Linked DNA regions of Homo sapiens. The gene in region 3 interacts genetically with the main gene of each other region. Each region holds a gene or a part of one and is shown on either strand. Other genes may lie near its edges.

Region 1 (7,025 bases), on a different chromosome or scaffold from region 3:
CCCTTGGTTCTTGTCCTTAGCTCTTGTGACTACGCCAGTGTTATCAGAGGACATGTAAACACTGCTACCCTTTCTACTCCACATGCACCTTATCCTAAATGGATTAATGTATCCCATCTTTTTGCCTGTTTTGTTCCATGTATTTAATTGATTTAATACGATTCTAGCATCTTAATTTGATCTGTGAGCTTTTCTGTTTCTTAATAGTTTGCTTGGTAGTATCATCAGAGGTAGTGCTACCACTGCATTGAAGTAATTTCTCAGATGCTTAACCTTCTAAAATTCTCAAGCACACTTTATTCAAGGACCACAGAGTTTACACCAACTACCCAGAAGCCAGGAATAGCTTAAGGAGAGACTCACCACCAGCAGCTTCTTTTCAATCAAGTTTCACTTCAACCTCACACCCAGGAACCCATTCAAATTCCTACATTTCGGTATCCTTAGTCGAACTAACTTCCTGTGCCGGAAGCTTTTGTCTGTCCCAGTGACTTCTTTCTTTAACAAATTCCCTTCATCTCCCCCTTGAGTCAAAGCCCATGGGGGCCCCAGGAGGCATGCAATATTTACCAAGGGCTCTCCCCCACTTTCCTGCCTCTGTCTGGCAGTTGTTTGCCTTTACTTTTAGGTTTGTAGTCACAGCCTGTATTTTTTCCTGTAGACACACCAGGTTTTCTGAACGGTAGAATTACTCAGAGTAGAATTAACCTTGTCCTTCACCCCGAGAACTGAGCTTGAAATTCACTAATCAAGGCCTGTATTCCTCCCACTTCTGAGTTTTAAATTTATATTATGAAATTCGGAAAACCCAGGCAAATTCAATCCATGCTTCTCTCCTTCAGGTACAAACTGAAATGAAAATGAAAGCTGAGAAATCAAAATAATGAATTTTAAAAACTAAAATATGGTAAAGCTACTAAAATATAGCATTGGAAGTAACACACACCTCCTTTTGGGAAAAGAAAGGAAAATTTTCTAGAGAAAGGAAGAAATGTTAAACAGAGAGCCTTGTACTATCCTTTTTGCCTAATCTCCTATTATTTTTGTTTATTTTTGAGACAGTGACGCTCTGTCGCCCAGGCTGGAGTGGGGTGGCATTATCTGGGGTCACTGCAACCTCCCGGGTTCAAGTGATTATCCTGCCTCCGCCTTCCAAGTAGCTGAGATTACAGGCGCAAACCAAGACCTCTGGCAAATTTCTGTATTTTTAGTAGAGACAGGGTTTCGCCATATTGGCCATGCTAAACTTGAACTCCTGACCTCAGGTGATCCACCTGCCTTGGTCTCCCGAAGTGCTGGGATTACAGGTGTGAGCCACGGCACCTGGCCCACTAATCTTACTGCTTTTGACTGTAGTTATTATTGTTACTTTAAAGATTATTCCAAATAGATCTCTAAATTCTTACCTGCCAAGAGGTTGAAGATTAATACTGGGTGATTAAAAAAAAAAAAGTTCAGAAAACATAATACAGGGCTAGGCTGGTGACTCATGCCTGTAATCTCAGCACTTCGGGAGGCCAAGGCTGGTAGACTGCTTGAGCTCAGGAGTTTGAGACTAGCCAGGCCAACATGGGGAAACCCCGTCTCTCCTAAAAACACAAAAGTTAGCTGGCATGGTGGTGTGCACCTATAGTCTGGGCTATTTGAGAGACTCAGGCAGGAGGATTGCTTGAATCCGGGAAGTCGAGGCTACAGTGAGGTGAAATGGTGCCACTAAGCCCCAGTCTGAGCAGCAGAATAAGCCCGTCTTAAAAAAATAAAAAAGAAGGCTGGGCACTGTGGCTCATGCCTGTAATCCTAGCACTTTGGGAGACCGAGGAGGGTGGATTACCTGAGGTCAGGAGTTCGAGACCAGCCTGGTCAATACGGTGAAACCCCATCTCTACTAAATACAAAGAATTAGCTGGGCATAGTGGCAAATCCCTGTAATACCAGCCACTCGAAAGGCTGAGGCAAGAGAATCACTTGAACCTGGGAGGTGCAGGTTGCAGTGAGTAGAGATTGCATCATTGTGCTCCAGCCTGAGTAACAAAAGTGAAGTTCCATCTCAAAAAAAAAAAAAAAAATTGCCCAGACACGGTGGCTCACACCTATAATCCCACCACTTTGGGAGGCCGAGTCAGGTGGATCACCTGAGGTCAGGAGTTCGAGACCAGGCTGGCCAACATGGTGAAACCCCATCTCTACTAAAAATACCAAAAATTAGCCGGGTGTAATGTTGGGTGCCTGTAATCCCAGCTACTTAGGAGGCTGACGCAGGAGAATTGCTCGAACCCAGGAGGCGGAGGTTGCAGTGAGCCAAGATTGTGCCACTGCACTCCAGCCTGGGCAATAGAGAGAGACTGTCTAAAAAAACAAACGATAGGCCAGGCGCAGTGGCTCACGCCTGTAATCCCAACACTTTGGGAGGCCAAGGCTGGTGGATCATGAGGTCAGGAGTTCAAGACCAGCCTGGCCAACATAGTGAAACCCTGTCTCTACTAAAAATACAATTAGCTGGGCATGGTGGCTCACCCCTGTAGTCCCAGCTACTTGGGAGGCTGAGGCAGGAGAATCACTTGAACTCGGGAGGCGGAGGTTGCGGTGAGCCGAGATCGCTCCACTACACTCCAGCCTGGGCAACAGAGTAAGACTCCAGTCTTAAAAAAAAACAAAATAAAACAAAAAAAAAACACTTGGAATTAGACTGGATAGTCTTAGTAACATTGGACAATTGGGGAAATAATGAGAGAAAAGACTGGAAAAAACCACTCTGATAACCTGCATCATGCTGCTTCAGAGTGAAGGGACGTGCTCTCAGATCAGATACATTTAGGGCAGGCACAAGATGGGAAAAGGACAGTAAAGGATTATTAGTATAATTCACAGATGCCTGCGTAGCTGCTCTTAAGGTGAGAACATAAATCTGTTTCAACTAGCCTTAGAATTTACTTACATATAGGCCTCTGATGAAACTTTAAATGTTAGCATCAATTACAGATTCATACACGGAAATAACCCATTACATTTGTAGATGCACATGTACAATGCACGTAAGTGCCCTTTTTTCTAAAACTGGCATATTTATTATTCATTCATTCTAAAACTGGCATATTTATTTATTATTCATTTATTTACTTATTTATTTATTTATTTTTGAGATGGGAGTTTTGCTCTTGTCGCCCAAGCTGGAGTGCAGTGGTGTGATATTGGCTCACTACAACCTCCACCTACCAGGTTCAAGCGATTCTCCTGCCTCAGCCTCCCAAATAGCTGGGACTACAGGCATAGGCCACCACGCTCAGCTATTTCTATGCATTTCTAAGATAGCAGTGTCCTCAGCTAATTTCCTTCTCCACCCCAACCAAAAATTTAACAAAGATTTATGTTTAAGCTGTATATTTACTCATTGAAACACTCGGTGAAATCAGGGTAAAATCAACTAAAGGAAAAATAGTTGTTTCATTCATTTGAACTTAAACCAACTAAAGCAGTACTCATGTCATTACGATGCAGCAAATACGAGACCTCTTTCTACAAAGATTAGCACAACCAACAAATTAGGGGATATAGCAAAACAGAGCCAAAAACGGTAAGAAATCAATTAAGTATGTTACAGCTTAACCCTTTACCTCAATAGTTTTTAAAAAATAAGCAAAGCCTCCCAATCCCAAACAATACGAATACATCTTCATCACCAATTTGTACTTGTATTTCTTATTCTTGAGGTTAGATTCTAAACCCTAAAGATATCCAAACTAGTATTAGATCTACTTATCTATAGCCAGAGACGGCAGCCAAGGTTATTAAAATGTCTTTTCTAGGCAGGGCGCGGTGGCTCACGCCTGTAAATCCCAGCTGTTAGGGAGGCCGAGGCGGGTGGATCACAAGGTCAGGAGATCGAGACCATCCTGGCTAACACAGTGAAACCCCGTCTCTACTAAAAATACAAAATATTAGCCGGGCGAGGTGGCGGGCGCCTGTAGTCCCAGCTGCTCGGGAGGCTGAGGCAGGAGAATGGCGTGAACCCGGGAGACGGAGCTTGCAGTGAGCCAAGACCGCGCCACTGCACTCCAGCCTGGGCGACAGAGCAAGACTCCGTTTCAAAAAAAAAAAAAAAAAAAGTATTTTCTCCAGGAAGATCCAATAGGAAAAAAAAAAAAAAAGAAACCTCGCTGATTAGGCTCCAACCATACTCCACCCTCCATGAGATTGACTGGATGGGCATCATGGAAACCAGAACACGTGGTTTCCAAACAAGAAAAATCCTATGAGGGATGGGAGGAGGGGAGAGGAAGGATTCAGCCAGTGTCCAGACTGAAATTGAGTAATATCAGTTTCACTCATCTTCACACGTCTTCAGGTTGCATGTTCATGGAGTAGTTTAGGAATAAATCCATGGTTTGTGGAGTACTAAAATACCTAGTGGTCTGCTGTATTACATTAAGGCCTTCCCCAGCAGCTTCCAAGGCAGCCTCCAAGTCACTGGCAGGAGAATTTGGCTGGAACTGCATGCAGGACTGCAGAGATTCCTCTCCACAGTTATAGAAGGGACTGTTCCAGGCCTGATTGTTCCAGGATTGGGTGCACCAGGTCTGAGTGTTCCAGGAGTGGTTGCTCCAGGACTGGATGTTCTGGGTCTGGTTGCTCCAGGTTGAATTGTTCCAGGTCTGGTTGCTCCACATTGGAAGGTTCCCAGTCGGGTTCACCAGGCATCCCTGGTGGTAGGAAGAGTAAAGGCTGGGGTAGGTAGGTGCTGAGGCCTTCTGAAAGAGAAGGAGGGATTAACAGAAAGGGTACAAGGACAACCAGAACTGTCTGTGACTGGAGTTGTGTGTTTCAGGGATGGACAAGATTGAAAGATCACTGAAAGGAAAGAACAGAATGAAGTTTCCTGTTACCTGCGTCACACCATTGCTATTCTTCGGCCAGTTGTTTTTCTGCCACCTCTTAGATTTCATTCTCTGGTTCTGGAACCAGGTCTTCACCTGCAGGAAAAAATGATAGAAATTGTAAAATATTCATAATACAGAGGTACTTTGAATCAAAGTATATTGCTAACTTTTATTCCTGGCCAGGTGCCATATCTCATGCCTGTAATCCCAACACTTTGGAAGGCCAAGGCGGGCAGATTGCTTGAGCCCAGGAGTTCGCTACAGGCTAGCCAACATGAGGAAACACCGTGTCTACAAAAATACAAAAAATTAGCCGGGTGTAATGCTGCACGTCTGTGGTCCCAGCTTCTCAGGAGGCTGAGACGGGAGGATCGCTTGCACCTGGGAAGTGAAGGCTGCAGTGAGCCAAGATTGCATCACTGCACTCCAGCTGCGTGACAACAGAACCAGACTGTCTCAGAAAAAAAGAGAGAAATGAACATTTTGGATAGAAAATAAAGGCAAGGGCCGGGTGTGGTAGTTCACACCTGTAATCCTAGCACTTTAGGAGGCAGAGGCACGTGGATCACTTGAGGTCAGGAGTTGAAAACCAGCCTGGCCAACATGGTGAAGCCCCATCTCTACTAAAAAATACAGTAAAATTAGCCAGGTGTAGTGGCGGGCGCCTGTAATCCCAGCTACTTGGGAGGCTGAGGCAGGAGAATCCCTTGAACCCAGGAGGTGGAGGTTTCATCCATTTGTACTTAAACCAAGTAATGCTAATGTCATTATGATGTCTCATTATGAGGCCACTGCACTCCAGCCTGGGAGACAGAGTGAGACTCCGTCTCAAAAATAAACAAAAGAAAAGAAGGAAATAAAGCCTAGAAGAGGATAAGCCAATTAATGAAGGAAAATGGCCAACAAGTAATAAACAATGATTGGCCTTATTGAATGCACACAGATAAAAAACAAAACAAGCTGGAGTTGCTGGCAGAAAGAAAAAAAGGAAAAAAAAAGTTTTTATTTTAATGAGAACCAGTGTGAGTTAGGGTTTCTCCTACCCTGGTAAGTGGAGTTAGATACTTCTTTTTTATTAAGGAAACGTTGGAAAGATTTTCACAATATTGGTCTGTGCAAGAAAGTGGTTAAATTATGACATAATTATTCACATAATAGAATATTTAAGGAAAGAAAGAGGTGAAGGAAGTTACAAAAGCATTTCATCTTCATAAATTATTTGCAAGAGGCGATGTACGGACACATAGTACACACATCTACATGCATCCACAGAGGTCTTAGCCATGCAAATTAGTCCAATTTTTGTTCACCTTATTCCAAGGACAAAACAAGCCTACCTGTTTGTAGCTGAGGTTCAGGATGTTGGAGAGTTCTTGCATCTGCTGGAGGCTGAGGTATTTCTGTCTCTGAAATCTATCATTGAGTACACACAGCTGGGTGGAAGAGAACACAGTTCTGGTCTTCTGTTTCTTGACCGGGACCTTGTCTTCCTTTTTTGCGACACTCTTCTCTGCAGAAGTGGGTTGTTTGCCTTTGGGACTGGTGGAAGAATCAGGGCTGTCCTGAATAAGCAGATCCATGGAGGAAGGAAGAGGAGAGACTGTTGGGAACAAATAAAAGGACACTTTTGTCTAAAATTTTTCAAATATTAAAATATCCTTTAAAAAAATTGTTTTCAAAGTACTTTGATAATTCCCAGAACCCCAGATCTAAGTAATAAGAAGCAATTTCTTAAGCAGCCCTGGCACTTTGGCAAGCTTTATATAGTATTACTCCAAGAAGTCTTATCAGTATCTCCATTTTGTACATAATAGACTGCGTTGGGAGAGATCTATAATGGTGGCCAATGCATTGCTGAGCGGCGCTACCCCTTTTTTTTAAAATTAGGATGGAGGTTCACTCTTGTTGCCCAGGCTGAAGTGCGATGGTGCAATCTCGGCTCACTGCAACCTCCATCTCCTGGGTTCAAGCGATTCTCCTGCCTCAGCCTCCTGAGTAGCTGGGATTACAGGCAGGCACCATCACGCCTGGCTAATTTTGTATTTTTAGTAGAGACAGGGTTTCTCAATGTTGGTGAGGCTGGTCTCGAACTCCTGACCTCGTGATCCGCCTGCCTCGGCCTCCCGAAGTACTGAGATTACAGGTGTGAGC
Region 2 (6,974 bases), on a different chromosome or scaffold from region 3:
AAAAAAAAAAAAAGCAACAAACAAACAAACAAACAAACAAAAAAACAAGTGCAAAGACTGGAATCACTAATCTAACTTACGGTTAAGGTGGGGTTGGAGGACCCCTGACCCAAGCCTTTCTGGCATGCTACCATTATCAGAGCTACCAGGTAAAGGCTCAGGGAATTTCCACCCATCATTGTGCTTTGTGAGTAGAATGGGAAGAGCTGGGGATTAGAGAGACAAATTCTTAATTCTCTTCCAGCTCAGCTCCCTATTGACAACTTACTCAACTATGGGTTCCTGGATGTTCCAAGAGCCTAAAATCCAGAGTATTTCCAAGCCAGCACATCTGACCCAGCATGGTGTAGACTCAATGCCTGCTCTATGCCATCCAATAGTTTCCCAATTGCTCTAGATCCTAAGGTGAAGCCTGCTGAGGCCCAAGTCCCCATTTGCTCAAACAAACAAACAAACAAAACAAGAAAACACCTTCCTTGGGGTATGTATATCACCAAGGAACCCAGAAGATGAGGGGATACATTCCCCTCAGCCCCTCCCTATCTGGCAGCCTTTGGATGGGAGATGAGAAAACGTTGGGTCTGACTCTTTTATTCCAGCCTCCCAAAGTTGGGGGAGCTGTCCAGTCCCCAGACCAGGAAAGATTTTAATCTCTTTGTGATCAGATAAATGGGAGAGTGGGGGAGGCTTGCTACCCTGCTGAGGAGGGCCATTCAAAGCTGGTTCCTGTAATAAAGTGATTTAATAGATCTAAAAAGGCCAATTCCCTTCTTTCTCCCACAATTACTTCCTGTGGGTTATCATTCACATATGTAAATGAGACAGAGAAGGGAGAAAAGCCACTAGTGGGAAACTAGCTGTCTAATGGGGGGTTGGGGGAATAAGGGTGCTGCAAAGGGGCAGCTCAGTATCCTGCTGCAGGTCCTCTTGGCAGATGTTCAAGTAGCCCACTGACCCCATGGCCCCAACAGTAAGTGGTGGCTCCCCATCTCCCTGCGTCTATTTCCCTTGTTTGTTCCTCACTGAAGGCTGTGCTCAAAGACGTCCCTGCTGCCTCCAACTAGTCCATCCAGCATCTCCCTTCTCTACCCCTCCCCCAAAGAATGCCATCCCTTCAGGCTCCAACCCTTAATCCCCACATCCTCCTTTCCCCTCCCCCACACCTCCTAAAGCCAACCTCCCTTAAGTAACCCCTCCCTGCCCGGCCTGGGTGTCAACCTACACGATCTGGGATTAGCAATTTCTTCTTTCCAGATCCAGTCCCAAACCTCCAAAGATGGAAGGGCCATAGGCAGCAAGCAACTTCCTTTCCATGGTCTTTATGGGTAGCTGGTGGCCCAGGACCACCGGAATGCCTCTAGGATATTCAGGAAGGGGAAGCCTGGGAGGAGGGAGACCTGAAGTCTCTGGCTCCTTGTTTGAGGCCAGGAATGTTAAGACAGCAATCAATGGCTGTCTGGGGCCATAAATGCCAAGCGGAGAATAGGACCAGAGGCCAGCCTCCCTTCACCCCCTGCCCTGCGACACTGAATTTCACCCCCTACTGTGCTGCCCTGCTTTAACTGAGAACTTGGGGTTGCGACCTACCGACTTCCCTCCCAGCCTGGCCCAGGAATGTAAGGAAGGCCTGGGCTCTTTGGGTTTTCCTTCCTCACGGGAACTGGACAGCAAAGACCCCAGTCCTGAGCTTTCAAGCCCCCACAGGGATCCTTCAGGGATCTGCCAAACCCAGTTTTTAGTGACCAGCCAGGTGAGGTCTGCATTAAAAAGGGGATGAGGCTGACTTCTCGGCTTTACGCCCCTTGGGTCCAGTAGCCAGTTGCCCTCACTCTCTCCCGCCTTCTGAGCTCCATTCAGACGTTGGAGGAGCTGGGCTCCCGGCTTAGGCCCGGCATGTGCTTCCCTGGCCGGCCTGCTCGCCCTCCCCCCACCGGCAAGCACAATACAACCTTAGTTTCTGCCACATGGGGTCACCTCCCTGCCCCCTGCCCCTTCCCAGGGGAAAGAGGTAATAGACACGTGGTAAGCCGGAGGGGTTCCCGGAAGGGGGCGGGGGTGCTGATAATTGGTGCTGCCTCCCACTACTCCCCCACGAGATAGTTAACAGGGACTCAGAATTGGGGTGCCGAAGCAAAGACAGGGATGCATAATGAGGGCTCCCGATGGCCCTCAATTCAACTGCGAGCCCGGAGCCCACCCGTGGATATGGGCGCCTAGACGCCCTTCCCTGGGCAAAGTTACCGGAATCAGTCTCACCTGGTGCACAAAGACATCCACTGGGGGGTCGAGCGCGACCCCGGCGCGGGCGGTCATGGACAGGAAGCCGAACCCCATGCGCACGTTGAACCACTTACAGATGCCCGCACCGTGCAGCAGCTGAGGCTCGTCCGCCGCCCGGGCCGCGTCCTCCGGCGCCTCCTCGGGCGCCTCTTCTGCCGCCTTGGCGCAGCCACCTGGAGAGAGGGAGGGCCGGGCACTTAGCTGGGGGGCACGGAATCGGAGGGCCGTCTCGGGCCCCAGGCAGGGAGACCCGAGTATCCAGCCCCACAAGTGGACAGCCAGGAGGGGGCAGCTACCAAGCAACAGAAGAGAAGAAACCTATCCCGGTCGCCTCCCGCGTTCCCCTAGCGTACACCGGGACAGTAGTGCCCCGAAAGTTTTGCTCCTCTTCCCACAACGCGTTTCCCAGAGACTCACGGCGGGACAAGCCTCTCCTCTCCATCCACCCACGTAGTCTGGCGCGCACGCCACTGGGACACCAAGGTTCCTGGCCCCAGAGACGGCCCTATGAAGCAGAAGGCCGCACCGTCTTGGGGTCCTTTGGGCAGCCTAGGACTCAGTTCCCCACCTCCCTTCTACGTGGCTCCTGGCCGCCCCTGAATCCTAAAGTGTCCCCGCTAAGTCCCGAGCTCGAACCTGCAAACTGCTGGTTGGACACGGAGCCCATGGTCGTCGGCTGAGCCCGTGGCCCCGGGCCCCTGGTCGGGCGGCTGCTGGCCCCGGAGAAGTCCGAAGGCAAAGGGTTGGTTCGGAGAAGAAGCTGCTACATCTTCCCCCGCACAATAGCGGTGGGAGGGCCCACGGCTTTTCAAAGGCTCCCAAATTCTAAAAGACAATGACCCAACCCCCCGCGGGCAGCCCCCTCCCCTCCCCTCCCTCTCCTTTCCCCTCCCTTTCCCTCCGGCTCCAGCTCCGGCCCTCCCCCACAACTCCGGTCTCTGACACCTCTGGGGTGTCCCTTCTCAGAACCTTGAGGTTTGACACCCCCTCCCCACACGCACAACTGGAGATGGGTCTGTCTGCCCTAGAAGACTTGAGTACCCCGGAATTTGAGATCCTGCACTTTGGACTCAGTAGGGGTCCCCAAAGCAGATACAGGTGGGGGACCTGGTGGGGGGGGTAGTTTTAAAACCACGTGACTGCACACACACACACACACACACACACACACACACACACACCACCCCCACCCCCCGGGCAGATAATTATACATTCCAGAGAGTTGGGGGAGGGAGGTGTGAGCCTGGCGGCGCTGGCCAATCAGAAACACAAACCACCTGTCAAGGGAGAAATGAATGGGCCCTCCCCCTCCCCCAGCCCTTGAGCTCCCCTCCCCCTCTCTTCCCCCTCAGGCCTCTGAGCTGACCCGGCTGCTTGGAGCTGACCCGCTCTCACCCCCCACCCCCGTGTGCTTAGATAGACCTGGAGTTCTGGACACTGGGAAGCCCGGGATGGGGGAGCAGGGGAGAGGCTGGGGACACACAGGGCTGATCTGTCCTGACCAAAGCGCTGCCTTCCAAAGTCTGTCTGCCTCTGACTACATCTGAATGTCTGCCTCCCAGAGTTTCTGACTCAGAGTTTTTCTGGGCCTCCCCCAGTTAGAAAAGAGAAAGTGCTCTTAATTGATTCGTTGTAAAGAATTCTTCCTTCTTTCCTCCCTCCAAACCTGTGTGTCTAAAGTTAGCCCCAGGTAAGCTCCCTGGAGAGCAGGAGGAACCCAAAGAGTCTTGAAGCTGTTTCTCCACCAGCTGCCTTCTCGTCCTACCCCCACCCCATCCCCATCCACTGCTGAGAGAGGGACTGGGTGGGCTGGTGGGTAGAGGTACTTCCTCTCTACTCTTCACACTCTTAGATTCCTAGGCCCTCCTTGTTTCAGAGTAACCACCCTAAAATGCGCTCCCATTCCGTAGTGGGGCTGGTGGAGGAACAGGACTGGGGGGCCTCCTCATTTGAAGAGGTAACCTCCCCTTCTAGGAGATAAAGACGGCTGGCTAGTGGGGGTGGCTACTGCCCTGGTCGGAGATGGACAATGGCCCGGGGCTCAGTGCACGGCCCTGGCCCTGCCCCTTCACTTCCGGTGTTCAGTTCAAACTGGACAATGCCAGCTCCGGCCAGTTCCCCTCCCCCACCACTACAACCCATTTAAAGGGACAGAGCCTGCTTTCGGGGGCATCCGCTTGCTCTGAATTCAATCTTCTCCACCGAGTGTGCAGAACCTTTTGGAATTCTCACGCTGTGGCTCTGTGTGTGTGTTTGTGTGTGTGTGTGTGTGCACGTGCGGATGTGGGCACATGTGTATTTCAGAGAGACCGGATGAGTGGGGGTAGGGAAGGGGAAGATGGGGAGGAAAGCAAGAGACTGCAGAAGTTATTTCCCTTTCTCTCGTACGGGGTGCTCTCCAAGAAATGAAAACTTGAGCGTAAGGAATGGGAGGTGGGACTTCGTGGGGTAAAAAGGACAAGAGTGGCCCTTTGCTGCTCCGCCTAAAAAATACATATCGTTAACAAATATTATTAGCAGTGCCCCACTCCCATCTGAGGACTCTAATTTAGAATTATCAAGAGTTCTCCTAGTACATCAGCCAAAGCCATTTTTATTTACATAATTCTCCTCTCCCAAAAGTCTTATCTCCCGCTGTTAGTGGCGCCCTTAAAATATATTCGCTCCGTGTACCTCTGTTCCTAAGACTCAGGAGCAAGTGGCTGAGGTCTGGCTGAAGAAAAGGGAGGGAAAGGGGAGTTGAACGCTCTGGCTTCTCTAGGTGGGTTCTCAAGTGATGCGAATTCGGTTCCCCGGGAATGCGCGGCCTGCTTCTCTGTCCAGGGTCCTGAGGGCTCCAGCAGCTCTGTCCACGGTGCTGAATTGAGTCACGCTGTCTTGATTCCCAGCTCACAGTTTTGAGAATAACTTCTTGAGTTCCCACCTCCAAGTCTTTCCCAGAAAACCTGATTTTCCTCAATGCCGGTTCCCGCTGTGGTAACACTGACACATTTCAGATGAATGAAGACACTTTTTTTGGGGGACGGAGTCTTGCTGTGTTACCCAGGCTGGAGTGCAGTGGCACGATATCTGCTCACTGCAACGTCTGCCTCCTGGGTTCAAGCAATTCTCGTGCCTCAGCCTCCCGAGTAGCTGGGATTACAGGCACATGCTACCACGCCCGTCCAATTTTTGTATTTTTATAGAGACGGGGTTTACCATGTTGGCCAGGCTGGTCTTGAACTCCTGACCTCAAGTGATCCGCCCGCCTGGGCCTCCCAAAGTGCTGGGATTATAGGTGTGAGTCACCGCACCCGGCCTAAGATACTTTTTTTGAATGCTAAAGAAATGGCACTTTCGACCGGGCGTGGTGGCTCACGCCTGTAATCCCAGCATTTTGGGGGGTCAAGGTGGGAGGATTGCTTGAGGACAGGAGTTTGAGACCAGCCTGGGCAACATGACGAAACCCCATCTCTAAAAAAAATACAAAAATTAACCGGATGTGGTGGCGCATGCCAGCTACTTGAGAGGCTGAGGTGGGAGGATCACTTGAGCCCAGGAGGCCGAGGTTGCAGTGAGGAGATAGTGCCATTGCACTCCAGCGTGGGTGACAGACTCACCCAGGCCTTGTCTCAAAGAGAGAGAGAGAGAGATTCCCAGTAGTATATGATTTTGTGAGAGAGATGCAGGTATCTCAAACTCCTCTTCAGAAAAATGGGAAACCTACTTCCCATAATATGGCTGTAAAGGGTTAGGAAAGAAGAGATAATATTTTTTGAGTCAAAGAAGACCAAAGTAGAAGAAAAACTAATCTCTGTTTTTAATTTTCTTTTCTTTTTCTTTTCTTTTCTTTTTTTTTTTTTTTTTTTTTTTTTGAGATAGATTCTCACTCTACTGCCCAGGCTGGAGTGCAGTGGTGCGATCTTGGCTCGCTGCAACCTCTGCCTCCTGGGTTCAAGTGATTCTCCTGTCTCAGCCTCCTGAGTAGCTGGGATTACAGGTGCCCACCACCATGCCTGGCTAATTTTTGTATTTTTAGTAGAGACAGGGTTTTACCATGTTAGCCAGGCTGATATCGAACTCCTGACCTCAGGTGATCCGCCCACCTCGGCCTCCCAAAGTGTTGGGATTACAGGCGTGAGTCACCACTCCCGGCCTTATTTTCTTAATTATTACCACTTTTTAAAGGAGTACAAGGCATTAGAGTCAGATTACCCATGTTCGAATGTCAGCTCTACTATTTACAGCTCTTCCTTAACCTCTATATTCCTCTGTTTCTTCCTCTGTCCTATAGGAATAATGAGAATACTGAGGCCTCAGAGATATTGTGAGGATGAAGTTAGATCATGTAGGCAAAGCTTTTGAAACAGTTCCTGTCATGTAGTTAGTTCTTCTTCTTCTTCTTCTTCTTTTTTTTTTTTTTTTTTTTGAGACGGAGTCTTACTCTGTCACCCGGGCTAGTGTGCAATGGCATGATCTCAGCTCACTGCAACCTCTGCCTCCCAGGTTCAAGCCATTCTCCTGCCTCAGCCTCCCAAGTATCTGGGATTACAGGTGCCTGCCACCATGCCCGGCTAATTTTTGTATTTTTAGTAGAGACAAGGTTTCACCATATTGGCCAGGCTGGTCTCGAACTTCTGACCTCGTGATCCACCCACCTCGGCCTCCCAAAGTGCTGGGATTACAGGTGTGAGCCACCGTGCCCAGCTGACATG
Region 3 (7,025 bases):
CGCAACAACCAAAGGAGTTCCCTGGAAACAGTCAAAGCAACTCGACACTGGAGGGGCTCAGGAGGGCTGAGGCCACCCACACAGGCTGCTGTGAAGCTGTGAGAGGAAGCTCAGCTCACCAGGCCTCTGGTTTCATAAAACACAACCGGAGCGACCCCGTCTTGAAGTGCGTAGTGAGGCACTCGCAAGGTACCGGGAAGGTTCACACTTATGAGCTGCCCACCAAGGACACAGAGCATCTATGGGTCTGGGGGAGGTCTTCCGGGCAGCCCGCAGAACCCGTGCCCGCTGTACTGAGAGGGCCGGTGAGCAGGCTGGGCTTGAAGGGTGGTCGGATGGCACCACCCGGCTGGCCTCCAGTGAGTGTCTGCACGTTCCAGGTTTACTCGCAACCCTGGCCGTTTCTCACAGACGGAGGCGCTAAGGAAGAGCAGGCACCCTCTGCCTGCTCCCCGAGGACGCCCTGCTCTGTCAGGGAGGCCCGCTGTGTAAGGAAGCGGCTTGGTGGCTGCTCTCACTGTGATCCGCGGCTCACCTCGAGTTCTCTCCTCTCTTGGGGTCTGCATCAGGACCCTCTTTTTCCAGCAGCAAAGCAACACAGGAGGGAGGCTGGACGCGCTGACCAGAACTCTCCTCGCCCTCGTCTGAGCACAGGCTGACAGACACCGACCCTCTAGCCTGAGGCCAAAGCCACAGCGTGACAGGGAAGGAGGAAAGCGCGGGACTCGTGGGCCTCCTAAAGCCACAGCGTGACAGGGAAGGAGGAAAGCGCGGGACTCGTGGGCCTCCATGCAGGGAAAAACGCTCCAGGACGCTAGGGGAGACCAGCACTGACTGCTGAGGCGGCAGCGTTTCCTTTTGGGGTGATTAGAACGTTCTGGAATTAGACAATGGTGACGACTGCACAATCTGTGAATATACTAAAACACACTGAAATGTACACTTAAAACGGGTGAACTTTTTTTTTTTTTTTGAGATGGAGTCTCGCGCAGTTGCCCAGGCTGGAGTGCAGTGGCACGATCTCAGCTCACTGCAAGCTCCGCCTCCTGGGTTCATGCCATTCTCACGTCCAGCCTAAAACAGGTGAACTTTATGATACGTGAACTGTCACAACAAGGATGTTATTTCAAAAAAAAGAGGAAAAATATTGCCAGGCGCAGTGGCTCACGCCTGTAATCCCAGCACTTTGGGAGGCAGGGCAGGCAGACCACGAGGTCAGGAGTTTGAGACCAGCCTGATTAACATGGTGAAACCCCGTCTCCACTAAAAATACAAAAACTAGCTGGGCCTGGTGGCACACATCTGTAATCCCAGCTACTCGGGAGGCTGAGGCAGGAGAATGGCTTGAACCCAGGAGGCGGAGGTTTCAGTAAGCCGAGATGGCGCCACTGCACTCCAGCCTGAGTAAAAAGAGTGAGACTCTGTCTTCAAAAAAAAAAAAAGAAAGAAAGAAAAGTGGCTGGCCGGGCACGGTGGCTCACACCTGTGATCCCAGCACTTTGGGAGCCCAAGGCGGGTGGATCATGAGGTCAGGAGATCGAGACCATCCTGGCTAACATGGTGAAACCCCATCTCTGCTAAAAATACAAAAAATTAGCTGGGCGTGGCGGCGGGCGCCTGTAGTCCCAGCTACTCGGGAGGCTGAGGCAGGGGAATCACTTGAACCCTGAAGGCGGAGCTTGCAGTGAGCAGAGATCGCGCCACTGCACTCCAGCCTGGGCCACAGAGCGAGACTCCGTCTCAAAAAAAAAAAAAAGGAAAGAAAAGAAAACAAAAAAGAAAAGTGCGTCCGAGGAGTGGGAGCTGCATGCTGTGCAGAACTCCACAGGCCCAGAGAGCCTCCAAGTGAGTTTCAGTCACTCCCTCCCAGGGCCTTCTTTCCTCCCCTGGGGTTTCCACACTAGCTGATGAATTACCTACAAGGTTATCACTATTTGCACAATGTGACCATCTGTTATCTTCACGTCCCTGGAGTCTGAGATACCAGGAAGGACGTGGAGCCGGGCAATCACTTCTGTGATTCCAATGCAAAAGCCGCCCCTTCTTTTCTCCAGGAAGCCCCACTTGTAACTGCCGCGCATACATTCTGGGCACTTGAATCTGTGTCTCCAGAGCTGCAGCCCGCAAACGAGGCCCAAATACACTCCCATTACGCTAACTTCACCTCAGGTCCTTCCCTCAGGGGGACACAGTGGGCGGGGACTGCACGCAGCAAGCCTGGATCTTGGCCAGGGCCTGCCGGACATGCATGGTCCCAGGAAGCACTCAGGAAATAAAAGCAGGGCTACCCCCAGGAGAAGGCATGTACACGAACACGGAGCGACACCCGGCGGCGGTCGGTGCCCGGGACCCCAGGCGATGAAAGGCACAGCTCTTGGCGTCTCCTGGCCCGCCCTCGGTGGTGGGGCTGCCCCAAGCTCTGTGAGTGATGAGCAGCATCCTTGGGCTTCCCCCACCCCGGTGGTGACAACCGCAAAGGTCTCTAGACGCCACCAGGTGTCCCCTGGGGGCAGAGCCACCTCCACCCCTGAGAACTGCTGTTTGAACCTTCCAGGGCCAGGAATTCATTCTTTCAGCCTACAGGCAGGAAGAAGAGGGCTCAGTACAATTCGGGACCAGAAGGGCTCAATGCAGGGATCCTCCAGGTAAAAGGCTCTGCCAGTGCCACAGCATTCTCGCAGTCCTTCCCCTGGAGGACTCCTCTGGGGCCCCTGCTGTACCTTAGACCCCACCACACAGCCTGAGGCTGAGGCCCAAAGCTTATCAAAGTTACCACTAGCCTGGGGCAACACAGCAAGGCCCCACCAAAAAATACAAAATTTAGCCAGGCGTGGTGGCTCATGCCTGTAATCCCAGCTACTCAGGAGGCTGAAGGAAGAGAATCCTTTCAGCCTGGGAGGCGGAGAATGCAGTCAGCAGATATCGAGCCACTGCACTCCAGCCTGGGTGACAAAGCAAGACCCTATCCCAAAAATAATGAGAGAAACAACACTCTAAAGGACAGGTTCTGGGAGACTCTTGGAGGGGGACAGGTTCCAGGAGACTCCTGGAGGGGGACAGGTCCCGGGAGACACACGTTCCGGGAGACTCCTGGAGGGAGTGGGCCCTTCCCCCATGCCTTGCCCTGAGGATCCATTTCTCAGTATTCATGGGCATCCCACAGATCGTCCTTTATCATTAACCAAAGGACCTAAGTGTTTCTCGGGAGTTCTGTGAGCCACTGAGGCAATGTAATCAAGCCGAGGTAAGGGTGACGGGAACCTGGATTTACAGCCGACCGGTCACTCAGAAGCACAGGTCACAACGTGAGGCCTCTAACTGGCATGGAAAGTGGGGGAGTCTTGGGGACTGAGCCCTTACCCCGTGGGATCTGAGCCTGTGTCGAGGTAGACATGCTGGAAGTGAGTTGAATCGGGGCTGCCCAGTAGGAAACACAGAACTGATGAATCCCCGGGTACCCGTATCTGGTTCCGCAACTCCTCTGTGTTGACTGCGGAGAGCACAGGAGGAACCGTGTTGGGTCCTTCCTACACCTCACACTGCTGGAAGATAAAAACAGCTCCAAGCAGTCCGTGCCCAGTGAGGCATGCAAAATGCATCAGGTCCAGAGAGACAAGAGCAAGGATTTCAGTCACGCCTCCCAACCACACCAGGGGCAAGCGTGGAAAGGCATCTATCTGTTCCTGCATCCTGGTCTCGGACACTATCTTCCTGTTCCTGGAATCTGTAACACCAAGAGTGATTTGCAGCCATCAATGGCCAATATTACTTGAACAAAAATTCTTTTTTCCTTTATCTAATTTTGTCTGTTTGTTTGAGACAGAGTCTCACTCTGTCGACCAGTCTGGAGTGTAATGGCATGATCTCAGCTCACTGCAGCCTCCCCCTCTCGGGTTCAAGCAATTCTCCGGATTATAGGCAACCGCCACCACGCCCAGCTAATTTTTGTATTTTTGGTAAATACGGGGTTTCGTCATGTTGGCCAAGCTGGTCTCGAACTCCTGACCGCAGGTGATCTGCCCGCCTTGGCCTCCCAAAGTGCCGGGATTACAGGCATGAGCCACCGTGCCTGGGCAACCGTGTGTTTTTTTTAATTAAACTTTTTATTTTAAGATAATTGTAGATTCACACTGTCGAGCTAAAGGAAAGGAACTGGAGCAAAATTAATATAAGTGGAGCATTTATTTGGGCCACATTTGAGGACTGCAACCTGGGAGCACAGGCTCGAATTACCCCAAATATACACTCTGATGAGCAGCAGATAACAAGCAGATTTTTAAAGGAAAAAAAGAGCTGGGCGTGGTGGCTCACACCTGTAATCCCAGCTACTCGGGAGGCTGAGGCAGGAGAATCACTTGAACCCAGGAGGCGGAGGCTGCAGTGAGCCGAGATTGGGCCACTGCACTCCAGCCTGGGAGACAGAGCGAGTCCGTCTCAAAAAAAACTCTCCTCAGAGGCTAGGCTGGAGTGTCCCTGTATCATCTGCAGAGTTTCTGGACAATTCCCCGCCCCAGTACCCCCTGCAACCTCTTTCAGGCCAGCAGGAACAAAGCAGTGTGCATTTGCTATAAAACGGAACACTTGGGTTTTTTCTATTATTCCTTCCTATTTAAAGCGACTCCTTTACTCACACAAAGCTGCCTAAAGGTTAATCTGCCTCCGGGGGAGCTGGGATTACTCAGGACACTCAAGCTCAGAGGTCAGCAGCAGAAAATACCTTCTGAGTCACGGTGGGGACAGCTCACCCCGCCCCGGCTGCTACTCACTGCTGGCTGCCCACTCACCGCCGCCCACAGCCGGGCTCCAGGCCAGGCTGTCAGGCGGAACATGTACTCACTCATTAATGAGAGTCAGAGAGTCCGGACCCTTGGCCAGTGGAGGCCGCCCCTGCCCGCCCACAGCCTGTGAGTCACCAGGGGGAAGGTCCCGTTCTGTGGCCTTTGAAGGTTCTTTCCGAGCAAACAACCAATAATGCCACTTGTGCCCTTCCCACTAGAAGAAGGGCAGGGCCATCCTGCCCTAGAAATACCACGCAGGGCCAGGCACGGTGGCTCATGCCTGTAATCCTAGCACTCTGGGAGGCCCAGGCAGGTAGATGACAAGGTCAGGAGTTCGAGACCAGCCTGGCCAACATAGTGAAAACCTGTCGCTACTAAAAATACAAAAAATTAGCTGGGCGTGGTGGCGGGTGCCTGTAGTCCCACCTACTGGGGAGGCTGAGACAGGAGAATCACTTGAACCCAGGAGGCAGATGTTGCAGTGAACCGAGATCACACCGTTGTACTCCAGCCCAGGCAACAGTACGAGATTCCCTCTCAAAAAAATAAGAAATGCCATGCGGGGCTTGAGAAAAGCGGTTATCCAGGAACTCCCAGGTCATGTAAGAATAAAAATCTCCCTTCCTCCCCCTTGCGTTTGCCAATTGGGCAAACCCCTTCCGAACTGCTCATTTCCGAGCGTGGACAGTTGTGGCTATTTCTGCTTCCTCCTCCGGATGGCCCCTCCTCCAAGCAGCCACCCACAGGTCCCCCAGGGCAGAAGTGGCAGCCCCTCCCTGGGGACCTCAGCTGACCTTGTACTCAGCACAGTATCTCTGCTGAACTTCTATTTATAATCTACTTAACTTCACTGTTTTAAATTTTTTGGTAGAGATGGAGTCTCCCTATGTTGCCCTGGCTTGTCTCAAACTCCTGGGCTCAAGCAATCCTCCCGCCTGGGCTTCCCAAAGTGCAGGGACTACAGGCATGAGCCCCTGTGCCCGGCCTGTCTTCATTTGACAGGTTTCTTGAGACTAAGAATGCTGGGGCGGTGGCGGGGGGAGAATATTGGCTTGTTGTCCTCTGTGCCCCCACAACACTGAGTATTCAGTAGCTGCTGTTGGAATGAATCATGAATAAATGTGCTGCTGCAGCTGCGTCTGGGCACGGTGGTTCACGCCTGTCATCCCAGCACTCTGGGAGGCCGAGGTGGACGGATCACCTGAGGTCAGGAGTTTGAGACCAGCCTGGCCAATATGGTGAAACCCTGTCTCTACTAAAAATACAAAATAAGCCAGGCATGGTGGCACAGGTCTGTAATCCCAGCTACTGGGGAGGCTGAGGCAGGAGAATCACTGAAACCTGGGAGGCGGAGCTTGCAGTGAGTGGAGATTGTGCCACTGCACTCCAGCCTGGGCGATAGAGCAAGACTCTGTCTCAAAAAAAAAAAAAAAAAAAGAAAAGAAAAGAAAATCAGAACCACCCCTCACTTCTTGTGAGAAAGCAAAATTCCTCAACGGGAACACAGAAAATGACAAATGTCACGGCGAGGTTGTCAGAAGGCTGCCTCTGGCACTTGGGCGAATGAAGATGCTGGGCCCGGCAGTGGGCCAACCAGAGCAGGAAGAGGCCGTAGACGGCGCCAGGACCAGCACACCCTGCCAAGCCAGGGCCTGGCCAGGGAGGGAAAGACACGGCACAGTCCCGCCCACCACTAGAAAGCCCGCTCCCGCCAGCTCTCGCCCTTACTATTTACAATGGAGCACTGGCCAGGCAGGGCAGCAGGCATGCGGGCGGGGACACCAGGGCTGCCTTCACGTGAATGTTCACTTCAGTACCAAGGAAAAGGCAAAGGGTCCCTGGCAAGACCACTACCCCAGGCCCCGACGCTGGGTTCCAGTGGGTTTCTTAGCACTGACAAGTGGCAACTGTTGGGATGCAGATGTTAAACAGACGCTTAGCACAGGCCGTGCGGTCCACCCCTGAGAACCTCGCCACGCGAACACTGACTTTCACCAAAAATCCCGCCAGTGGTGTTTAGTGCGGGTTTATTCTAATCACCAAAAATTGGAAACAGCCCACAGTCCTGTGACCCACAGGCAAACACGTCAACAATCTGTGGCCCAACTGTCCAATGGATTTACAGTCAGCAAAAAAATGGGGTAACTTTTGAAACCTGCAGCAACACGGATTTGGCCGCCTGAAAGCCACCAGGACCAAAGGGCAACATGCTGTTGATTCCATTCAGCCAACTTTCTGAGAATGGCA

The links. A genetic interaction does not mean that the proteins touch.
Region 1: of DOT1L (region 3) and NANOG, changing one suppresses a phenotype caused by changing the other (phenotypic suppression), as found in Homo sapiens cells (one study listed by BioGRID).
Region 2: of DOT1L (region 3) and LIN28A, changing one suppresses a phenotype caused by changing the other (phenotypic suppression), as found in Homo sapiens cells (one study listed by BioGRID).

What each region holds. Positions count from the first base shown.
Region 1 is NC_000012.12:7,792,399-7,799,423, reverse strand, and holds the end of NANOG (homeobox protein NANOG), read right to left. Parts: intron 6,475-7,025; coding exon 6,212-6,474; intron 4,968-6,211; coding exon 4,881-4,967; intron 4,746-4,880; coding exon 4,329-4,745; 3' UTR 278-4,328; downstream 1-277. UniProt on the Homo sapiens protein: Transcription regulator involved in inner cell mass and embryonic stem (ES) cells proliferation and self-renewal. Imposes pluripotency on ES cells and prevents their differentiation towards extraembryonic endoderm and trophectoderm lineages.
Region 2 is NC_000001.11:26,406,865-26,413,838, reverse strand, and holds the start of LIN28A (protein lin-28 homolog A), read right to left. Parts: upstream 3,023-6,974; 5' UTR 2,948-3,022; coding exon 2,917-2,947; intron 2,454-2,916; coding exon 2,257-2,453; intron 1-2,256. UniProt on the Homo sapiens protein: RNA-binding protein that inhibits processing of pre-let-7 miRNAs and regulates translation of mRNAs that control developmental timing, pluripotency and metabolism.
Region 3 is NC_000019.10:2,166,925-2,173,949, reverse strand, and holds part of DOT1L (histone-lysine N-methyltransferase, H3 lysine-79 specific), read right to left. Parts: intron 1-7,025. UniProt on the Homo sapiens protein: Histone methyltransferase. Methylates 'Lys-79' of histone H3. Nucleosomes are preferred as substrate compared to free histones. Binds to DNA.